2 linked regions of the Homo sapiens genome follow. The protein of the gene in region 1 interacts with the protein of each later gene in a pairwise test. Each region holds a gene or a part of one and is shown in the gene's direction. Other genes may lie near its edges.

What was found.
Region 2: the proteins of DMXL2 (region 1) and PCNT interact in a two-hybrid assay, tested with the Homo sapiens proteins (one large-scale study listed by BioGRID and IntAct).

The regions. Positions count from the first base shown.
Region 1 is NC_000015.10:51,483,201-51,486,851, reverse strand, and holds part of DMXL2 (dmX-like protein 2), read left to right. Parts: intron 1-514; coding exon 515-779; intron 780-3,651. UniProt on the Homo sapiens protein: May serve as a scaffold protein for MADD and RAB3GA on synaptic vesicles. Plays a role in the brain as a key controller of neuronal and endocrine homeostatic processes.
Region 2 is NC_000021.9:46,411,005-46,414,655, forward strand, and holds part of PCNT (pericentrin), read left to right. Parts: intron 1-184; coding exon 185-1,063; intron 1,064-1,832; coding exon 1,833-1,988; intron 1,989-3,651. UniProt on the Homo sapiens protein: Integral component of the filamentous matrix of the centrosome involved in the initial establishment of organized microtubule arrays in both mitosis and meiosis. Plays a role, together with DISC1, in the microtubule network formation.

The DNA.
Region 1 (3,651 bases):
GACTGAGAGATGCTCATATTGCCTAAATGACCTCAAATGCTCAGAACTGGTAGTTGCATTAGAATACAGGCTCCCAGAGACTATGAATAGAACATATGGCTGTATTTCATAATTTATTTACTATTTAAATATGAGGCAGATAGTAATAATTATGATTATGCAGAAATATGTTTGGAAATTAAGAGGAAGTGGTATATAAATTCTAGTGTCATATATAGTATTTAATTTAAAAATGAATGTTATTTAAGTTGATCTTAAGTCTGAGATGATATTAATATACTTTGTTTCATGCTTATTTTATAAATGATCTGTCTAGTTTGGAAGCTACTGGGTTCCAACCTGTTACTCTTTTTGCTATTCTTTAATCTCCTATCAATCATTTAACTACCCTTCACTGTCCCTTCGCCCACCATTAGGATATAAATGGTAGATAATTTCAGGGTATTGATGGGATATTTCATCTCTCTAAATAATTATCATTAAGTAAGATAAGTATTAATATTTAAATTTGCAGGTATGTCTTGAAAAAATGGAAGATATTCAGCTAGCCATGGTTATTGCCCGTTTATATGAATCTGAATTTGAGACTTCATCCACTTATATATCCATCCTAAATCAGAAGATTTTGGGTTGCCAAAAGGATGGCTCAGGATTCAGTTGCAAAAGATTACATCCTGATCCTTTCCTGCGTAGTCTTGCCTATTGGGTAATGAAAGATTACACCCGAGCCTTGGACACATTACTGGAACAAACACCAAAGGAGGATGATGAACATCAAGGTAGGACGTTTTGTGGATTTCTTTTTTTTCTTTTTTAAAGGAAGAGATACTTTCTGAACTAATGTTCACTTAGATTAAGAAAAATCATTACCAGATTTGCTTTTCAACTTTGAGAATTTATTATTAAAATTTCTTGTGTGTCTAAAGGATTAGATAGGATTACCATCCTATTCTAATTACGTATATATTTAACAAGCATACAAAATGTTTGCCACATTCTGTAGCTCTTTTTACATAATCATATAGCCATTTTTTTTAAATGGAAATTTTGGCTGTTACACGTATTGGTTTGTCACATGGGCCTGGAAAAACTTTATGCCTCTGTGGTAAATTTTCTTTTTTCCTTGTTATCCTAAATAATTTAGATATTACAAGCACTTAAAGGATATTTATCAGCATTGTTTTCAATAATTTGAAAGGAATGGAACATTTTAAGTTTTTGTCAATAGAATAGTTAAATACGTTTTAATATATCCACATATAGAAACAGTGTGTCATTAAAAATTGAGGTAGATACATATGTTAATATGTGCTGTATTTTTAAGTGAAAAAAAGTAAGATGCACAGCAGTGTGGTTCTTGTTGCATTTGGCATATGTATGTTGTACAAACATGCACCTGAATGTGCACACATGTTATGTCTGCCTCCTCCATTTCCTTTGGTTGTTTCCTGAAACAAATCATAAGAAATGAAATACTGGTCATTGGTCACTGGCTACCTTTTGGGAATAAAAATGAGGAGATCCTTGTCTTTGACTTTTGACAACTTGACCATGTGCCTTGGAGAGGATCTTTTTAGGTTGAATCTATTTGGGAGTATTTGAACACCCTGGACCTAGATGCCTATCTCTTTCCCAAGACTTGGGAATTTTGGGCTGTTACTTTATTAAATGTGTTTTCCTCACCTTTTCCCTTTTCTTCTTCTTCTGGAATGCCCATAATATGAATATTTGTTTACTTAATAGTGTCCCATAAATCCTGTAGGCTTTCTTCATTCTTTTTTTTCTGTTCCTCCTTCTTCCTTTTTTTTTTTTTTTTTGGTTTGCCTGAGTTATTTCAAAAGACCTGTTTTCAAGTTCAGAAATTCTTTCTTCTGCTCGATCTAGTCTGTTGTTGAAGCTCTTGATTATATTTTTTATTTCATTCATTGAATTTTTTAGCTCTAGTATTTCTGTTTGGTTCTTTTGTATGATATCTATCTCCTTGGTGAATTTCAAATTCACATCATGTATTCTTTGCCTGATTTCATTTAGTTGTATATCTGTATTCTTTTGTATCTGAATGAGTTTCCTTAAGACTATGATTTCCTTAAGAATTATTTTTCTGGCATTTCATGTTTCCTTGTGACTAAGGTCTGTTACTGGAGAATTAGTATTTTCCTTTCCATTCTTTTCCTTTGGTGTCATATTTCCTTGCTTTCTCATGGTTGGTGTGTTTCTACATTGATTTCTATGTATCTGGCAGAAAAAGTTGCCTCTTCTAATTTTATGGAGTAGGTTTCATAGGGAAAGACTTGTTACTATGAATAGGTCCTGAGGTGTTGGTTTGGTGGAGTGCATTGGTTAGATGGATACAGTAGTGTAGTCTCCATGTAGCTTCTTCACCTGTAATCCACATTAGTGGCATTTGCAATCCTCTCAGTTGCCTAGGCTGAAAGAGTTTGCGGTGATGGCCATGTAGCTTTGCCAGGTGGGCTCGCTGGGCAGTTTTTCAGGTTGGGGTGCATATGTGCACACAATGGGTCAGCCAGCTTAGGGTCTGGTTGGCTGGGATTGGGGCCACAGGTCTGTTACTCTGGCCAGGAGTGTGGGTACATGGTCACTTGGCCAGCCTGGAGGTGTGCCTGCCAGAAGCAGCCCACAGGGCTCATATGTGGCCTCACGGCTACTCAGCTGGCCTGGGGTTTTGTCTGTTAGGGGTGGGGATAAGGCTATTTCTCAGGCCCATGACACGATTGCATGGCTGCTCAGCTGGCCTGGGGGTGTTTCTGCAGGTGTTGCCCATGGGTTATTTGTATACCTGTGATGCAGGTGCAGGGCTGCTCAGCTGGTCTGGTACTATGTTAGCTGGGGTGGCAGTGAGGCTGCTCCTCAGGCCTGAGGTGTGGGCATAAGGCTGCTCAGCTGGCATGGGGGCGTTTCTGTTAGGGGCTCATGGGGCTATTTCTCAGGTCTGAGACTGGTGCAAGGCTGTTCAGCTGGCTAAGGGGTGTGCACACTGGGAGCAGCCTGCAGGGCTGTTTGACCAGGCTGGGATGTGTCCACCAGGGATAGCCCACAGGGCCGTGGAAGTGGGCTCTTGGCTGCTTGGCTGGCCTGGTGGTGTGCTGCCAGGGGCGGCTCGAAGGACTATTTCTCAGGCGTTGATTGCAGGCGCAGGGCCTTTGGCAGGCCAGAACTCTGAGTGCAGGGAGCAGGGGCGCTGCACGCTGTTTCTGAGGTCCTGAGTGTGGGCATGTAGCTGCTTTGCTGGCCTGGGGGCATATCAGCTGCTCGTAGGCTTGGAGACCTCTCCCATTTGGGGGAGGGTATGTATGTAGTGGTTTGGCTGGCTCAAGGGCAGGTTCACCCTGGGCAAGACTGCCAGATTGTTTCTCTGACCAAAAGTGTGATGGTAGGGGTTGATTTCCCTGCCATGCAGGACCAAAGTCATAGCCAGTCATGGTCCTAGGCTCTGCATAGCTGGGATTGTAGCATTCAGCTACCCATGTAGGCTTGGAATGAAGACGGGTCCCCAGTGTTGGAGAGGTACAGTGACTCCTGGCCCCCAGAGCAGTGCGCATGCCAGAGGTGACTGGTCTCAAGATAGTGCTTGTGCTGCAGCAGCTTGGCTCACTGGCGGTAGGTGGAGGGCACACACCTTATGCTCCTAAT
Region 2 (3,651 bases), on another chromosome or scaffold:
CCAGTGGCAGCCAAGGTGGGTGTGGAGTGCATCCGGCACCAGCAGTTTGCTTCTATGGCTGCTTTGTTTTTCACGCTATGGAGTCTTCACTCCAAGAATGCATTCAGGATGTAACGTGCCCTGAAGTAGGGACATTCGGAAGTGGATACATTTAATTTGCCTCTGAAATGTCCTCTCTCTTCAGGTCATATATACCAGAAGTTCTGAGATTGAAGAGCTGAAAGCCACTATTGAAAATCTGCAAGAGAATCAGAAACGATTACAAAAGGAGAAAGCAGAGGAAATTGAACAACTCCATGAAGTCATTGAGAAGCTGCAGCACGAGCTGTCCCTCATGGGGCCTGTGGTGCACGAAGTCAGCGACAGTCAGGCTGGCAGTCTGCAGAGCGAGCTGCTCTGCTCCCAGGCCGGGGGCCCTCGTGGGCAGGCCCTACAGGGCGAGCTCGAGGCTGCGCTGGAAGCCAAGGAGGCCCTGAGCCGGCTGCTGGCTGACCAGGAGCGCAGGCACAGCCAGGCCCTGGAGGCCCTGCAGCAGCGCCTCCAGGGCGCAGAGGAGGCTGCGGAGCTACAGCTGGCTGAGCTGGAGCGCAATGTAGCCCTCAGGGAGGCTGAGGTCGAAGACATGGCCTCCCGGATCCAGGAGTTCGAAGCGGCCCTGAAAGCAAAGGAAGCGACGATTGCCGAGAGAAATTTAGAAATCGACGCTCTGAACCAGCGGAAGGCGGCCCACTCTGCCGAGCTGGAGGCCGTCCTGTTGGCCTTGGCCCGCATCCGCCGCGCCCTGGAGCAGCAGCCCCTGGCAGCCGGGGCGGCGCCTCCCGAGCTGCAGTGGCTCCGAGCGCAGTGTGCCCGCCTCAGCCGCCAGCTGCAGGTGCTGCACCAGCGGTTCCTGAGGTGCCAGGTGGAGCTGGACAGGCGGCAGGCCCGCAGAGCCACAGCTCACACACGGGTGCCCGGGGCCCACCCACAGCCTCGCATGGATGGTGGCGCCAAGGCCCAGGTCACCGGCGACGTGGAGGCCTCCCATGATGCTGCTTTGGAGCCGGTTGTCCCTGACCCACAGGTGGGCTCCCCCCGCGGGCCATGGCAGGGTATTTTTTTTTACTCTCCTTTTCTCCTTTGATGTCAATGACTTCTCTCTGCGCTGGGCACTGGGGGCTGCAGTTGTCATGGTGGCTCATGACACAGCGGAGAAAGGGGGCCTGAAGCTCGGGCCAGCCTGGGCCTGTTCCGTGTCAGTACGCAGTGAAGCTGGGCTGAGGATTTCACTGTTTTGTACCATTTTAAGCTTATCGTTTTAAGCTTTTAAAAACAATTCTTTCTTTCACATAATAGGGACTGTCCAGTGAAACGGAGCTCACTATGTGAGGAGGGTCCGCTTAAGCTGCTTCTCTGGTTTCTAACCAAATGGTTTGTCTGTCGATGAGCAGTGCCTGTGTGAGATGTGGCGAGCGAGCTCTTCTTTTGGAGCTGGAGGCCCTGTAGGGAGTCGTCTTTTAAGGCTTCCACTTGTATTTGAGCAGAACCTTGGGAACTTGGTGCCTACCACCCCCACACCAGCTGGGTCTTTGTAGAGTGGCTCCCACTCTCAGATGCCCCAGTCCACCTTGCTCTGTGGGGTCGTCCTGGGTCGGGGCAGCTTTCTGCTGGGTCCTCAGCCCCGTTCCCATGTGGCCTGCTGTGGACCAAGGTGCTCGGCTGTGGATGTCACTGCCACCTCCCTCTGGCATCCCTGCTGGCTGCCGTACTGGTTCCCAGCTCCAGGCCACCTGAGGGGCAGCCCCAGCAACAGCCTCCTGCATGCTCAGCTTTCCTCTGTCTCCTCTGTCAAGGGTGATCTGCAGCCTGTCCTGGTGACGTTGAAGGATGCACCTCTCTGCAAGCAAGAAGGCGTGATGTCAGTGCTCACCGTCTGCCAGAGGCAGCTGCAGTCGGAGCTGCTCTTGGTGAAAAATGAAATGCGCCTGAGTCTGGAGGACGGCGGCAAGGTGTGGGGAGGGGGGAAGGCGCGAGGTCCCCCCGGGAGAGGCTGGACACGCGGCAGCAAGGTGTGGGGAGCGGGGAAGGCACGAGGCCCACCCGGGAGAGGCTGGACACGCGGCAGCAAGGTGTGGGGAGCGGGGAAGGCACGAGGCCCACCCGGGAGAGGCTGGACACGCGGCAGCAAGGTGTGGGGAGCGGGGAAGGCACGAGGCCCACCCGGGAGAGGCTGGACACGCAGCAGCAAGGTGTGGGGAGGGGGAAGGCGTGAGGCCCCCCTGGGAGAGGCTGGACACGCGGCAGCAAGGTGTGGGGAACGGGGAAGGCACGAGGCCCACCCGGGAGAGGCTGGACACGCGGCAGCAAGGTGTGGGGAGGGGGGAAGGCGTGAGGCCCCCCTGGGAGAGGCTGGGTGCAGAACATGTGGGTCTTGCCCTGGGCAGAGGCGGGTATTCTGCTGAGGTGAGGAGCACAGTCCGTGCCTGCAGTGACATGTTCTCTGAATCCTTTCTGTTCTGTAACGAGCTGTCCATAACTGTTGTGAAATTTCGTACGTGCTTCATTTAAGCCACTCTGTAGAAACAATCAGTTGGGTTTTTTTCTTGTAATTGATCCAAATGGATTTAACTGTGCTCGAGGGTTAGTCCTGGTTTGTCTTTTCATGGGAGGACCACATCGCCCCCGTGGGCCTCACCTCAGCTCAGGACTTTGATGGCCAGCGTCTGTTTTACTTTGAAAGGCCTCAGATTTATTCTTGTAATCTGTTCACCTCACTCCATATTGTCACTTGAAAAAAAGCTGGCACTTCTTTTCCCCGGGGAAGGAGGTTGCACCTTGACCATCTCAAATTGTAGCAGGGTGGAGATTTAGCGAGAAAAGCGGGTGCTGGTGCTTCTCCCACCCAGTGCACCAGGGGCAGGTCCCCAGTGCCCCTAGGAAACACCTGCGCAGGAGCTGCCCTCTCCTCAGGCCGCATCAGGTGCAGATGGCACCTTTATTTTTTTTCTCTCTTTTTTTTTTTTTTTGAGACAGAGTCTTGCTCTGTCGCCCAGGCTGGAGTGCAGTGGCACGATCTCAGCTCACTGCAACCTCTGCCTCCCGAGTTCAAGTGATTCTGCAGCCTCAGCCTCCCGAGTAGCTGGGACTGCAGGCATGCGCCACCACACCCAGCTGATTTTTGTATTTTTAGTAGAGACGGGGTTTCACCATGTTGGCCAGGCTGGTCTTGAACTCTTGACCTTAGGTGATCCACCCTCCTCAGCCTCCCGAAGTGCTGGGATTACAGGCGTGAGCCACCACGCCCAGCCTTAGATGGCACCTTTTGATGCACTGTCTGCACCTCGCCTCCTCCAGTCCAAGGCCCAGCGCAGCCTCCCTGGACACACAGCCACCCACCCTTCTCCTCCTTCTCCTCTGGGACACACATCTGTCCACCCTCCTCCTCCTCCTCCTCCTGGACACAGTCGCCCACCCTCCTCCTCCTGGACACACAGCCGCCCACTCTCCTCTTCCTCCTCCTTCTCGACACACAACCACCCACCCTGCTCCTCCTCCTCCTCCTCCTGGACATGCAGCCGCCCACCCTCCTCCTCCTGGACACGCAGCCGCCCACCCTGCTCCTCCTCCTCCTCCTGGACACACAGCCGCCCACTCTCCTCCTCCTGGACATGC